Homo sapiens: one gene and its partner. The protein of the gene in region 2 purifies or fractionates together with the protein of the main gene of each other region. This does not show direct contact. Each region holds a gene or a part of one and is shown on either strand. Other genes may lie near its edges.

The links.
Region 1: the proteins of SPACA9 (region 2) and RIOX2 purify together in Homo sapiens (affinity purification with mass spectrometry; 3 studies listed by BioGRID and IntAct, with this or other methods). This does not show direct contact.

The regions. Positions count from the first base shown.
Region 1 is NC_000003.12:97,948,407-97,955,442, forward strand, and holds part of RIOX2 (ribosomal oxygenase 2), read right to left. Parts: intron 6,090-7,036; coding exon 5,986-6,089; intron 3,847-5,985; coding exon of another isoform or gene 3,789-3,846; exon of another isoform or gene 3,746-3,788; intron 3,736-3,745; exon of another isoform or gene 3,204-3,735; coding exon of another isoform or gene 3,112-3,203; intron 2,483-3,111; coding exon 2,380-2,482; intron 1,610-2,379; coding exon 1,438-1,609; intron 1-1,437. UniProt on the Homo sapiens protein: Oxygenase that can act as both a histone lysine demethylase and a ribosomal histidine hydroxylase. Is involved in the demethylation of trimethylated 'Lys-9' on histone H3 (H3K9me3), leading to an increase in ribosomal RNA expression.
Region 2 is NC_000009.12:132,881,897-132,888,932, reverse strand, and holds part of SPACA9 (sperm acrosome-associated protein 9), read right to left. Parts: intron 5,023-7,036; 5' UTR 4,986-5,022; coding exon 4,842-4,985; intron 1,565-4,841; coding exon 1,362-1,564; intron 644-1,361; coding exon 322-643; 3' UTR 1-321. UniProt on the Homo sapiens protein: Microtubule inner protein (MIP) part of the dynein-decorated doublet microtubules (DMTs) of multiciliated respiratory cells and the distal singlet microtubules of monoflagellated spermatozoa.

The DNA of each region.
Region 1 (7,036 bases), on a different chromosome or scaffold from region 2:
TTGTGTTCTCCTGTTGAACACAGGCAATTCCACAGAATGCTAACATCAGAGATCACTGTCACCATGATAGGTCAAAACAAAACACCACCACTCCGTACATACTCATGTCTGGACTCAGGCAAGGCAAGAACATATTCCAAACCACAACACTGACCGAACATCCCCCTACTCTGGCTAATGAGTGACCACTTCCGCTTTACCATTGATAACTTCAGCCTCATACATTCCTCCTGCCTACCAGATAACATTTAGGAGACTTAATCATAGAATCCCTTCCATTTCCTGACAGCATCCAATCCAGAGCAAAGCCCTGCTTCCTTGAACCCTCTCCAAAATCACCTAACATACACCTGAGTCCTATAAGTCTTTTCTAACACCGTTTTACTGAGATGCCCTGCAGTTCTCAATGGTGTGTGGTCTTCCCACTGCAACAAGTCAATAAATCCAATTTCGTCTGAATTCAGGAGTATGTTCTTGGTGGTCTTTGCTATAGGATACTGACATCATCCATCTGGAAGTCATCAATGACATCATCCATCCAAAAGTATGTTATATCATTTGCAGCCTAAATCTGTCATAAATTAGGCACCTGTGCCTTGGAGAAGGTTGATGATAATCTTGGACATTTCTTGAATCTCACTGGCTGATGGTAACAATTTTACCCATGCTATGATTTGGATGTTTGTCCCATCCAAATCTCATGTTCAAATTTGATCCCCAGTGTGGAGGTGCAGCCTAAGGGGAGGTGTTTGGGTCACATTGTGGGGAGCAGATCCCTCATGAATAGATAATTCCCTGGGGTTGGGGGCGGTGAGTGACTTCTTGTTCCATTAGTTCCCATGACAGCTGGTGTTAAAAAGAGCCTGGCACTTCTCCTCGCTCTTGCTTCCTCTCTCACCATGTGTTCTGCAAATGCCAGCTCCCTTTCCCCTTCCACTGTGAGTAGCCTGAGGTTTTCTCCAAATGCAGATACCAGCACCATGCTTCTTGTACAGCCTGCAGACCATGAGCCAAATAAACTTCTTTTCTATATAAATTACCCAGCCTCAGGTATTCCTTTAAGCAACACAAATAAAGACAACCCAACCCTGACTTAATTCCAACAAGATTATTTCAATGTTCAAATTTTGAAAACTTCCTGAAGACTATGAATACCAGAGTACCTATAAATATACATATTTCTCACCCAAAAGGACAGGGCTCTTATTTCCCATCAGGGTGGGATACAAGTTCTTTCCAAATGACTTCTAAGATACAGGTTGCTAAAGGTTGAGTGCAGCACATCTCGTCTGCCCATATTCACTAAGGATGGATGTGGTCCACATTAACACGAAAGCACTTCATACTTTCCATCTGTTCAAAAAGGAGCCTACCCAGAAAAACCGTAAACATCCTGCATTAGCCTCTGACCACCCAGAAGAAAACAGCAAGCTCCACCTGGTGTTGACAGCTCTGCCCCATCTCCCGCAGAGTAAGGGGGGAGTCTGTGCATAATAAAATCCTTCTTCATGTCTGAGGAAAGCAGTTCTTTGGTGCCCTCCAGCCGGTCTGCAAGTGTCCTCAGGAAGCCACTTAATCGTCTTGTAGCAACAGTTGTGGATTCCACCTGCTAGGAACACAGAAGTGAGTCCTGGCCCAGATGCCAGCAGAACTTACTGCCCAGCTCAGTCTCCACAGTAGACTGCAAAACTGCCAGCCACCGGGTATAGACATTAATCCATGTCATTCCAAAGGGGAAGGGACAACCTGAGCCCCTAAGAATGATATCTCATCATTTCCTTATAAACACTGTTAATTCTAAGCTGCCTATTGTTTGCAAAAAATTTTCAGAATTTTGCCTAGAAATAGAGATCCTTGGAAATATGGTACAGTCTGAGCTCTGCCTTTTGGAAAGCAGGTCACTGTCCTAAGATGAATGCTTCAGAGAAAGCAACCTTTGCTCAACTCAGCTCTAATCCACTCATCTCAAAACTAATCAAATAACACTCCTGTTTCAAAATGTAATAAAAGAACAGGAGGCCAACGAATACACCGAGGCCAGGATCTCCAGTACAGTGAGTTTCTCTTAACTAGTAATCTGATGTGTGCTAAATCTACAGTTCTCCTGGCCGTACTATTCATTTACTCAACCAACATTTTCACACTGCCTGCTACTGCCACTGTGAAATACAGAGCTGTCTGTACAACATCACAGTTCTTTGGATCACCACATAACACATGGCACTCCACTCATTCTGCAAGTCACACAGCTCAGCAGTGCAGCACAGTAGACAAGCCTGGCTCATGTTGGAAGAAGTATCCTGGGGTCCTTAAGGTAGGACTTCAGCTGGCCTGGGCTGCAGCTACCATCCTTCATTCCTACCTGCCTTTACTCCTTACCAGGAGCAGCTGCCGGGGTATGCCGGTCCGTAACTCCACGTCTTCCTTTGCAGTATCAAATACAAGCCCCGAGATGGTATCCAAAAGGAAATCTCCCCATGAACTAGGATATGCACCAAGGGGGAAAAAAAAACCAAAACAGTGAGTGCATACGAAATATACATAAAATACTTATTGCTAGTAAAGCCAAAAGCTACAAATTGGATTATGGCTTCCCTGTCCAGGCATTTTGAGTTCCATTAATTGGACATTACTCAGCATGGAAATCTAAGACCTTCATCAACCACCCTGTTTCCTCCCTCCCCGTTCCAGACACTCACTTGCAAAGTTAAAAGTGGGAAGCTAGGCTTCAATACTGATTTCTCTTAAAAGCTCTCAGAAAATTAACCATAGACTTTCATAAAACAGGAAGTTCAATGGACCAAATTTTTAACAAAAGTGTCTATGAGGGGAGATTTGTAGGAAATTTAAACAGTCATTATAGGATCTAAAACCAAATTTTATGTGCAATAAATACAACAAATTTGGGGTAACAGCAAGATATCTGGATTGTGTAATTATTTGAACAGTTGTATGTTACATTTTCCTTGTCACTTACAAGGGATGCTACTCCTAAAGAAAATATCTACCATCAATAATTCCAAAACAATTATGTCTAGCAGTGGTTTTACCGGGGGATAGAAGCCAGTGACTAAAAATAACATCTAGGGACAAATATCCCTATTCAATTACCTTTGCTTTCTCTGGGGTATCTGGAATTGGCTCATTCCTAAGTGCGTGCCGGTGTAAGAAATGCACTCTGTGGGGATGCTCTCTTTAAACATTTCTTAGCTATTTAAAATTTTCCTGTGTCACCAGCAGATTTCAAATTGCCGGCTAGTAGAAAATGGAAATTCACAGTATGACTTTTACTTCTCACTCAGTAAGCAAAATTAACACTGTTATGCTTCCCTCCCAGAAAAGTTGCAAAGGAGGACAAAAGCCACATGAGAGACACTTTTCCCAAGACATCTACTACCTGGCGGCCTCACTGCTTTGTGACTTAATGTTATATCCAACCCTGCATCTTTAATTGAGTCTCAACCCGGAGGGCACATGCAGATCTCTCAGCACCATACAATATGTGCTTCCTTTGCAGGTTTATGTAGGTGGAAGTCATACAGCAACAGCTCATGGAGGAATTTAGTAGAAGTTAAATAGTGCTCCTCTAAGAGTCAGAATAGATATTGGGACTTCCCACAATTTAGGAATATCTCTTGAAGGGTCCACTTTGGTAAAACAACCAAATCAACAACATACAGCAGACCCCCAAACACTCCAACAATGCTACCTTGACAGGTGTTAGGAAGAGGCCCCAAATATTCACCTTTACATGGTACCTGAAGGAGCATTAGGCTCAAAACACAGGATCATTTCTGGGGAGCAATGGCCCTCAAGTCACATCTTCTCATTCTAGCTCCAGCATCACTGTCCAAGACACAGGTCAAAATCCAGCCTGGACACATTGATCATGGTACCCACCCACAATCCTAAGCAGGCAACTTCTGTAACTTAGGAAGCTCTTCCCAGCCCCAGCTGAAAAGAGAAGAAATGAATAGGACCCAGGGGCAGCCGGCCAGTTCCTCACTCTTGGGATTGGGAAACAGAGAGTGAGTCAGGTCCTTAGCAGAAGCAAAAGCTAACAGGGTCAATGAGATGGAGGTCAGAGTAGCAACTGGTGATGGCCTAATGTTATGAGTAAACAGAAGCTGAAGAAGGAACAGAAGGGAGAAAACACCAGTCACTAGAAAACCAGTTGGTAGCAGCAAGAGAAATGGAAAAGAGAATTACAGAAAGGGAGTACCTGAGAAACATTAACGATGGGACACCCACAGATGCACGGATATTCAAAGGGCCAAACTATGTGGTCCAGAACTGCTCTGAATCCAGAATGGACTTCTAATTCCAGCCTCTCTGTAGCCTGGAGTTTCTAGGACTCACTCCCTCAAGTGACCCTGCACTTCTTGAGCTGGCTTTGGTGACTTTCTGTCCCTTAAAATGCAAGGAACCTACCTAGCCAAAGTGATGAGGGCATTTTTCAAAATGGAAGCCTAATACAAACTTGGGCCTTCTACTTGTGGGAAAGATAGCACTAAACTAGGGCCAGGCCTCAGCTAATTCCTCCAGTAAGTCTTTTAAATGTAGAGGTGAAATTCACACTGAAAAGTCTGATGAGGAAGCAGAGGTATGCTTACTAACTTGTTTTGCAAGTTCTGGCCCTGAAGGTAGGAGGTGACTTGCCGTCCCTTGGACCTAGAATGTCCTCTCCTACTCTGATCTGCTGACCCACCCCTACTTACTCATCCTTTAAGACTCACTCAGCATTGGTGTCATTTCTGAAGGCTTCTCTAATGCCCCTACTTAGCTAAATGCATTCCTCTATGCTCCAAGAGTCTCCTCTGCAAACCTACAATAGAATTTATCACACCATCTCTTCTCCTACAACCAATTCCAAAGTATAAGCTCTCTCAAAACCCCTTCGATAAAATCCTTGAATTCCCAGCAACAAACACAATGTCTAGTACATATTTGTTTAACACATTAACTCATGACTAGTATTTTTTTTTTTTTCCTGAGACAGGGTCTCGCTCTGTCGCCCAGGCTGGAGTGCAGTGGCGTGATTTGGATCACTGCAACCTCCACCTCCTGTGTTCAAGTGATTCTCCTGCCTCAACCTCCAGAGTAGCTGGGATTACAGGTGCACACCACCACACCTGGCTAATATTTGTATTTTTTTTAGTAGAGATGGGGTTTCACCATGTTGGCCAGGCTGGTCTCAAACTTCTGACCTCAAGCGATCCACCCGCCTCAGCCTCCCAAAGTGCTGGGATTACAGGAGTGAGCCACCACGCCTGGCCATGATTAGTATTTTTAAATATGATTTGGACCAGCAAGGTTGCTGCTTTTTGGATATAACTCACACAGCACTGCCACCCAGTGAGGAGGTACTAGCTGAAATGAACATGATTTTAATTGGAACTGCTGTCAGCACATGCACTTTAGTTCCTGCTGTTCCAGACTGCCTGTCCTACTTTAACTTCATGGACTGTAAAAAGAGAAACCCTCAAAGAGACCAAGAGATTTCAATGGGTACAGAGTTTCTGTTGGAATAAACATGTTTTAGAAACGAATAGTGGTGATGGCTGCACAAGAGTGTGAATGTAATTAATGTCAAACTATGCTTTAAAATGGTTTAAAATGGTATATTTTATGTTCTATATATTTTATCATATTAAAAAAAAAGAGAGAGAGTATGAGCCCAGCCTGGCATCACTAACACACTGATGTACCCACAGCTAGTCTCTTTCTTTCCAAACTATGTGACTCTCTATTTGGGCAATGCCCCACATCCTACAGAGTCAGGTTCATGATGTCCCCAGAAGCAAGTCCAGAGGGACCAGTCACATACATGGGACATCAAAGGAATGTGGAAGTCAGTAAAGGACATAAACCCTGGGGTTTGCATAGGAGGTAGGGGCCAACTCCCTCATATCCCTCCTGAATGTGGCTGCTGCAGGCCAGGACTCAGAGCTGTCCTAGCATGTGCAGCTGGGAGGCAGTGTTTACTTGTTCTGGTAGGTGCTGATGGTCACGTGAGTAGAGTGGGCCAGCCCCGCAGGAGTGTCCGCTTGATGAATGGTTCCTCTGGGAAAGTACAACAAATCACCCGGCTAAAGGAAGGAATAGGAAAGGGTAGAGAAGTTAATAAGTATTCCTTCTCAGTCCTCTTCATTTCAGGGAGATAAATATGGGCTTTGAGTCTCAGTTCTCCATTCTAGAAACCACAACCTCAAGGCACAGTCTATATGCTGGGCTCATGTCGTGTGCAGCTAGTCTAGCTTCTCTGTGTCCGTGAGCCTGTCACTGTTAACCATGATCCACGAGAGGCTCTCGGTGCCTGAAGTCACTATCTTTTCATTCTCAAGCTGAGACTAGACTCACCTGAGACTACCCTGCCCTGATGCAGGGATCAAGGAAGGTAACATCCTGTGCCTGGGACGCCTGCTTCCTCCCTCTTGCATGCTTCAGTGGTTAAGAGTAGGAGCTTGAATTTAGAGTCACACAGACACAGCCACTTACTGGCTGATGATCTGGCAATTTACCTGCCCAAAGCCTCAGTTTCTTTATCTGTAAAATGAAGTTTAATAGCCCCAAACCTTACAGGATTATTTTGAGGATTAGAGATGCTGCTTCCAAGCTCTTAGGGCAATGATGGGCATGTGATTGGATTATATGATTTTATCCGCCAGTCCCCCACTTCCTGATAATTTTTGAGTACTTCTAGGCGCAGGGTCTGTATCTTACCATCTTGTCTTTCCCAGAGCCTACCCTAGCAAAGCACCTAGCACTCAACACAGGCTCAATGAATGTTGGGATGAATTGAAAAACTATACAATCCCTATTTCAACTGAAAAATAAGATGTAATCAAAAATTCATCATTTTCTTGGGCAGCTGAGCCTCCTCTACCCTATTCCAAGTGGGTGGACCAAAACATTCTCCCCAAATTACTCCTGCCCTGAGCTGCCTCCTTCCCAATCCCACTCAGGCCAAAATATTCCATGTAGCAGCTACCTATGGAGAAAAGAGGGAATCTTGAGGGCAGCTCATCTTCTCTCT
Region 2 (7,036 bases):
AGCCAGGCGAGGTGGTGGGCGCCTGTAGTCCCAGCTACTTGGGAGGCTGAGGCAGGAGAATGGCGTGAACCTGGGAGGCGGAGGTTGCAGTGAGCCGAGGTTGCGCCACCGCACTCCAGCCTGGGCGACAGAGCGAGACTCCGTCTCAAAAAAAAAAGAAGTTAAAGCAAGAAGAGAGAGAGGAAGTCTCAGTAATATATTGGCTGATTCCCTTGGGGTTAGTAAGTGGCAGGGTCCATGGGTACCAGTGAAAAAAGGACCAACCAGTAAAATCCAAATTAAACAGCAAAGCTCTCCGCCGACGGAGCTCCTGGCTCTGAGTTACAATTTCCCACCAGGAGGCCTCCAGGGTGGTTTTGAACATCCCCTGGGTTTGAGGCTGGCTTTTGTGAGCTGTCTACACTTGTGTTTAGTGGCCCTGGGCTGGGTCCCTATGGCCTGGGCAGGACGAGCGGCTCCCCTGGTGCTCTCCTGGTGCGCCTGGGGCTCACTCACGTGCTGCAGCACCTTGCGCGGCAACTTCTCGGAGTGGGCGATCCATTCTTTCATTAAGTCTAGGATGAGGGGGATGAGGCTGACCACGCCGCCGTAGTGGTTCCGGGCCTCGTCACAGCTGAGGTGGTTCACCACATCATGAGGGTATCTGCAGGACGGCAGGGGGCCAGGTGAACCCATGCTCCCGGGACTTGCCATGCCGTGGCAAGCAGCTGCCACACCTCAGGCACAGCAGAGTCACCTGGGGAGGCTTTAGAACTGGACACACAGCACGCTGAGGCGCTCTGTCCCCAGAGATTCTGGCAGACCAGGCCTGGGGTGCCACAAGCCCCAGGTAATTCTGGTGTGAAAGACAGGAGATGCAAACCACTGCCCCATGGTCCGTAGAAACCTGGGTTAGGGGTGAGGAACTGGCTGGCTCATCCCTCTGGCTCTTCTCACCCTGGTATCTACAGAGCTTCCCCAGGCTCTGGCCCACTGTGCTGCAGGCTCCCGGGCTGTCAGGATGAGGAGCCCTCAGTGCCAGTGCTGCTGCCCCTGGGAGGCGGCTCTGGTGTCCACTTCTTTGCATGTCAGTGAGGATCTCTGTGGGCTTCTGGGGGCAACTGCTCTGGGCTCTACACCCCCTTCTCCACCTGCCTGGTGCTAACACCCGTGAGACACCTGGTGTCCTGCCATGTCTACGATGGTTGTAAAGAAAAGGTTTTGTTGAATCCGAGTCATTCCAATAAATGAGTGGAGACTGGGATTTCCTGCCCGGGGTGGTCTAATAGGAGCACCATGATCCAGGCAACAGGAAAGAAGCAGGACAGAGGCCTCCCCACAGGCACACACGGGGCCTCAAGAGCAGCATCAGAGGGACTTACTTTGCTCTGAGGCTGCTTAAGTCGTTGCTTTGGCTAACGAGGGTTTTGCATTTCTCCAGGAGGTTGTTGGTGACTGGGGTGCCAGAGTGCACGGCCTCAAAGTGCTGGCAGAGCTTATTCAGCTCTGAACAGATGTCCAGGAACATGAGCAGAACCCGCCGGTCTGTGGAGCTGTTGCAGTAGTGTTCCATGTAGCTCTGCACCTGCAAGGGCCGCCGCCACATGAGCTGGGGACATGCCAACCCGGGTCCTGGCTGGCTTATGGTGCAAATGTCCAGAAGCACCCACCCTACTCCCTCCCACCCTACATGACTCATGGGGGAGACGCAAGTAACGCTTAAGCATTTTAAGGTACAGACCACTCTATATAGTGGTATCTCTCTCTCTATAGATGGATGGATGGATGGATGGATGGATGGATGGATGGATGGATAGATATGATATGAAATTAATGGATCGGTTGGGCACAGTGGCTCACACGTGTAATCCCCGCACTTTGGGAGGCTGAGGTGGGCGGGGATCACTTGAGGTCAGGAGTTCGAGACCAGCCTGGTCAACATGGTGAAACCCCATCTCTACTAGGAAAAAAAAAATTAGCCAGGCGTGGTGGCACGTGCCTGTAATCCCAGCTACTCGGGAGGCTGAGGCAGGAAAACCACTTGAACCCGGGAGGAGGAGGCTGCAGTGAGCCGAGATCATGCCACTGCACTCCAGCCTGGGTAACAGAGCAAGATGCCATCTCAAAAACAAAAAATTAATTAAATTAAATGGACGGATGGATGGGTAGATAGATAGATGGATATAAAATCAAGTGTTCCAGGCACCATGCAAAATGCTTTACGGGCCTGCTCTCGCCTGTCTTCATCTAAACCCTACACACTGAGCAGGTACCTTTTTAAATTCCCATTTTACAGATCAGTACCATGACATGAACACTGGAGGTTTGCAGAGGTGAAATAACCCGCCCAGGGCACCAGTGGCTTAGTTGGGTGTCCCCAGCTCAGTGGCTCCGTGCCCTACCCCTCACCTGTCCCCTGCCACCTGAACCAACCACCGCCTAAAGCAAAAGGGGGCTGCCCCCTGACTTAATGCCACAGTGCCTGTCATCCCACTTCTAGAGGGTTCATTGTGAGAAATTCCAGCGTGGGCCACCCATACTGAGAGGGAAACAGCAGGGACTGGAATCCTTTGGGCTTCAGCCGTACTGTGTTCACAAGGTGGAGAAGGAGGGGCAGGCCAGTAAGTGGAGCTTATGGGGTTACCCAGTGACTGCATCTGAGGTTGGGCCAGAGCCGGAGGTCTGATCTCGAGCTAGGGAGGAATTGGCTGTGGTCCAGGCCAGATGAACAGACCCATTTCGTAGTCAGATGGTTCTACTCTCCACAATCTGATGACAGATGCAGGTATCACCTCCTCCAGCACCCACAAAGGTCTACATCTAAATCAGGGTTTTCTTGCTGTAACCGTTTGTCTTTTTGTTGCTAGGGGATGTTTCCCCAAACAATCTGAAGTGGTTCCTTCCCAAGGACTGCCATGCACAAGCAGCTTCGTAAGGGGGAGAGGCTCTTCACACTCATACCCACAAAGGCACCTGTAGGGGTCGAGGAGGAGGAACCTGCCCCATGGTGTAACTACAACAGAGCATTGCGGGGGTGGGGGGCGGTGTGCAGGGAACCTTTGGACACTTCTGGTTCAGGGAGGGCAGGGGAGGGGTGAGGCAACTCAGAACACAAGGCCACTGTTTACCAAGAGCCTTCGGCTGAACCTAAGGCAAGAAGGCCACTCCCTTATGCATGGATGTAGATTCTGGGAAGGGACACTTGTTGACTTTTGAAGCTTCTGGAGGATGGACTAAAAAGGATGTAGGCAGTTTCTTTTCTTTTTTCCCCCGAAGTCCAGGTTTACAGAAGAGGAAGTTTATTTTCCAATAGCTCAGGGGCTGCATGCGTGGGCAAATATGGCTAAATTGGCTAAATGTCACAAGTCGGTGAATCTGGGTGAGGGTTATATGGGTGCTCCTTTTCTGTACATTTAACTTTTTTTTTTTTTTTTTTTTTTTGAGACAGGGTCTTGCTGTGTCACCCAGGCTGGAGTGCAGTGGTGCGATCTCGGCTCACTGCAGCTTCTGCCTCCAGGGTTCATGTGATTCTCATGCCTCAGCCTCCCGAGTCACTGGGACTACAGGCGCGTACCACCACAACTGGCTAATTTTGGGATTTTTAGTAAAGATGGGGTTTCACCATGTTGGCCAGGCTGGTCTCCACTCCTGGCCTCAGGTGATCCACTCACCTCGGCCTCTCAAAGTGCTGGGATTACCGGCATGAGCCGCTGTGTCTGGCCTCTATATTTAACATTTTTTTGAGTTAAAAAATTGAGGAAACATTTTACCAAAATTAGAAAAAAAAAGTGTTTTTTTTCATTTTTTTGTTTTTGTTTTTGTTTTGTTTTGTTTTGTTTTTGAGACGGAGTCTCACTCTGTCGCCCAGGCTGGAGTACAGTGGCGCAATATCGGCTCACTGCAACCTCCACCTCCCAGATTCAAGCAATTCTCCTGCCTCAGCCTCCCGAGTAGCTGGGATTACAGATGCGCACCACCACGCCCAGCTATTTTTGTATTTTTAGTAGAGACAGGGTTTCACCATGTTGGTCAGGCTGGTCTCAAACTCCTGACCTCATGATCCACCTGCCTCGGCCTCCCAAAGTGCTGGGATTACAGGCATGAGCCACCACGCCTGGCCAGAAAAAAATGTTTTTAAAGGATGCTGCCAGCAAGGGTTGCTTGTTCCTCCCGAGCCTGTTTCTCCTCTGCAGTTCTGAGCCCTGCGCCTGTTCCCACCCATCTTGGGGCAGTTACCCTTCCACAAGCTGACTCCCTCCAAGCTGTGAAGGGCCGGCCTGTGTGTGTTCCTAACTGCACTGCAGCTCCAGCCCCTAACATCCTGGAAGGATCATTTGGTCTTGAGGCCTCCAAGTCCTGCACAGCAAACCTGGACAGCAGCTAACCCTGGAGGAGATGCAGGTTAAATAAAAACATCTGCGAAAGCACCTGGCGGTGTGCTTGGCATCCCACAGTTCCTCAACCCCCAGTGGAATCTGATGGGAAGGACAGGATCCCTCTGGTCACCAGTAAATCCCTGGTTTTCTATGGGTGACCACTGAACCTGCGTCACAGATGAGGACACTGAGGCACAGAAAGGTGAAGTCATTGGCCTGAGATCACAGCAGTGGCACATGGTAGAGCTAGGACTTAAGCCCTGGCCGGCTGAGTTTTAAACCTGCCTCTTTATTCACTTGTTGTTATTCACTTACATATTTGGTAGAGAAACGAATGAAGGACTCATTACATCATTTAGGTTCTGGGTCCGGGTCCTAATTCTGGCGCAAACGTCCTTCCCCTCTCTGGGCCCCAGTGGTTTCATCTTTTGTGAGAGGGGACTGGGCTTGTTGCCCCTCGGCCGGGGTGGGGGTCGGGAGCCCCACCTGTCCAATGCTGGAGATGGGCCGGATCTTGTCGTGGGCGTTCTCCCTGCAGTGCTCCAGAGCGGCGGTGAAGGTGAGCTGCTGCTGCTGGAAGAGCTTGTACTTCTGCTCGATGCTGCGAAGGGATTCTTTCACCTCATTCATTGTCTTCCTCTGTGGTCATTTACAGGAGAAGAGGAATCTATGGGGAGACAGAGGATAGTGATGAGGTCCTGGGACCCAATGCTCGGATCCAGCTCCGGAGGGAAGGACTGTCAGGGGAGAGGGATACCCATGGCCCCTCTCACTGGAGCGCCTTGTGAGTGCCTCCCCACAGAAGAAAGCGAGGCCCTGGGAGGCTGCACACTTGTCCAGAGCCCCCAGGCTGTCCATGACAGAGCTGAGCCTGACCTCGAAATTTACCCTCCATGAACACATTCTTTGCCAGGAAATGTGACTTCTTCCCTCAGCTGTGGACAGAGTTTCTCTGGTTCTGTTTCTCCAGATGTGGGTATCTACACACACGCGCGCACACACACACGCACACACATGCATGTGCACACACATACAGGTACATGCATACACACACACACGCACGCGTGTACACACACGCCCTCCAATCCCTTGCTGTGGTGTCAGCAAAACCTGGGATCAAGGGATATGCCACAGGATATAAAACCAGGAGATGATCAGTTTGGATCAAATTATTGTAAAGCTGCTCTGCAACTGGTGGGAAAGTCTGGGAATTCCTTCCCATGGATTAAGCGGGGAGAAGAATCAATACTAGACTGTCTAGTTTGAGAAGATGTAAGTCTGCCTGCTCTGGGCTGGGGGCAGGAGCCTTGGTCTCAGGTTTGCGCATTCTCAGGGCAGGGCTGGTGGCTAGTGGACTGCCCCCTGACCCTGTTAATTGCTGGAATGCCATGATCAGTAACATGGAGGCTGTGGGGAGGACTCTCTCTTGGCGCCTCACAGACTGTCCCTGCTGTGATTTAGGTGCTCCACAGAGCATCTACAATCCTCCTGTGAGCAGAAAAGTCTGTGGGTGTGTGCTCCATGACATCACAGTTTTGCTGAGCGCGTGCAAAATGCTCCAGACCACAGATTTCTATTCATGTTAGAGCTGGAAGGGACTGAGAAAACCAGCTCCCTTGAGCTGCTATGGGGAAAGTGAGGCTCAGAGGGAAAGGTTTTGCCCAGGGTGTCACAGCAAATTTGTGCCCAAGACACCCTGGGTCCTAGGCTTCCTTACGTCTAACCAGCATCGTCAGTGCTGCCACACTCGGCTGCCCCTCCACTGCCTCCAGAACAAAGGCCAGGCTCGAACGTGTCACCACATGAGCAGGGGTCAGAGAAGGCTGTGCTGAGCTCAGGTCCAGTCCAAGGGAGATGTTGGAGATGGAAGGGGCCAGAACATTTAGCATGGACTGGGGCAGGGAAGGCACATTCCAAGCTTCCAAGCAGGTCCCAGGTGGATAGGAATAACAAGACGGGGCTGGGAAATATTTCTTTCTGCTGTGTCCAGAGCAGGGCTGGAGCTGGGGGTCCAGTTTGAACCCAGGAGGTCAAGGCTCCAGTGAGCCATGATCGCAGTACTGCACTCCAGCCTAGGACACAGGGAGACCCTGACTCAAAAAAAAAAAAAAAAAAGAGGCAGGGTAGGGGGAGCATCCCAGTTGATGCAAGAAGAGATGGCATCAGAGGAATGAAAGGAAACACAAGAACAGACCAGGAGATGGCCTCCGCGAGATGATGGGGGTGGTACATCAGAGCACTTGGAGGAGGCTGGGGAAGAGGCCCTTTAGCAAGATGGAGCCCAGCCATGGAGCCTCTATCCCTGGAGCCAAAAGCCAGCAAGGCTGCCTTAGAGGAGCCACCTTAAGAGCCACTGAGTGAGTCTCCTGGAAAGACAAGAGAGTATGCTTCTGCAGCAGAGCCACAGCACTGTGACTGTCAACAGACACAGGGACAGTCGCAGCTGCCCTGGGGGTGGGCCTGGGCCAGGGCAGGCAGGGCAGGGGCCTCTTTCCAGCTCAACCTCCTATGGAAAGGAGAGCTGAAGGTGGGGAATGAGATGGGGGGTCCATGGTTTATTGACACCTGCCATATCCTTGGCTGGTCCCTGCCACATGGAGCAGACATGCTGACTCACGCACAGTGGTTTCCTGTTGTGCCTCCCGTGGTGTCCGGCTCACCCAGGACCAACTAGGGTGAGG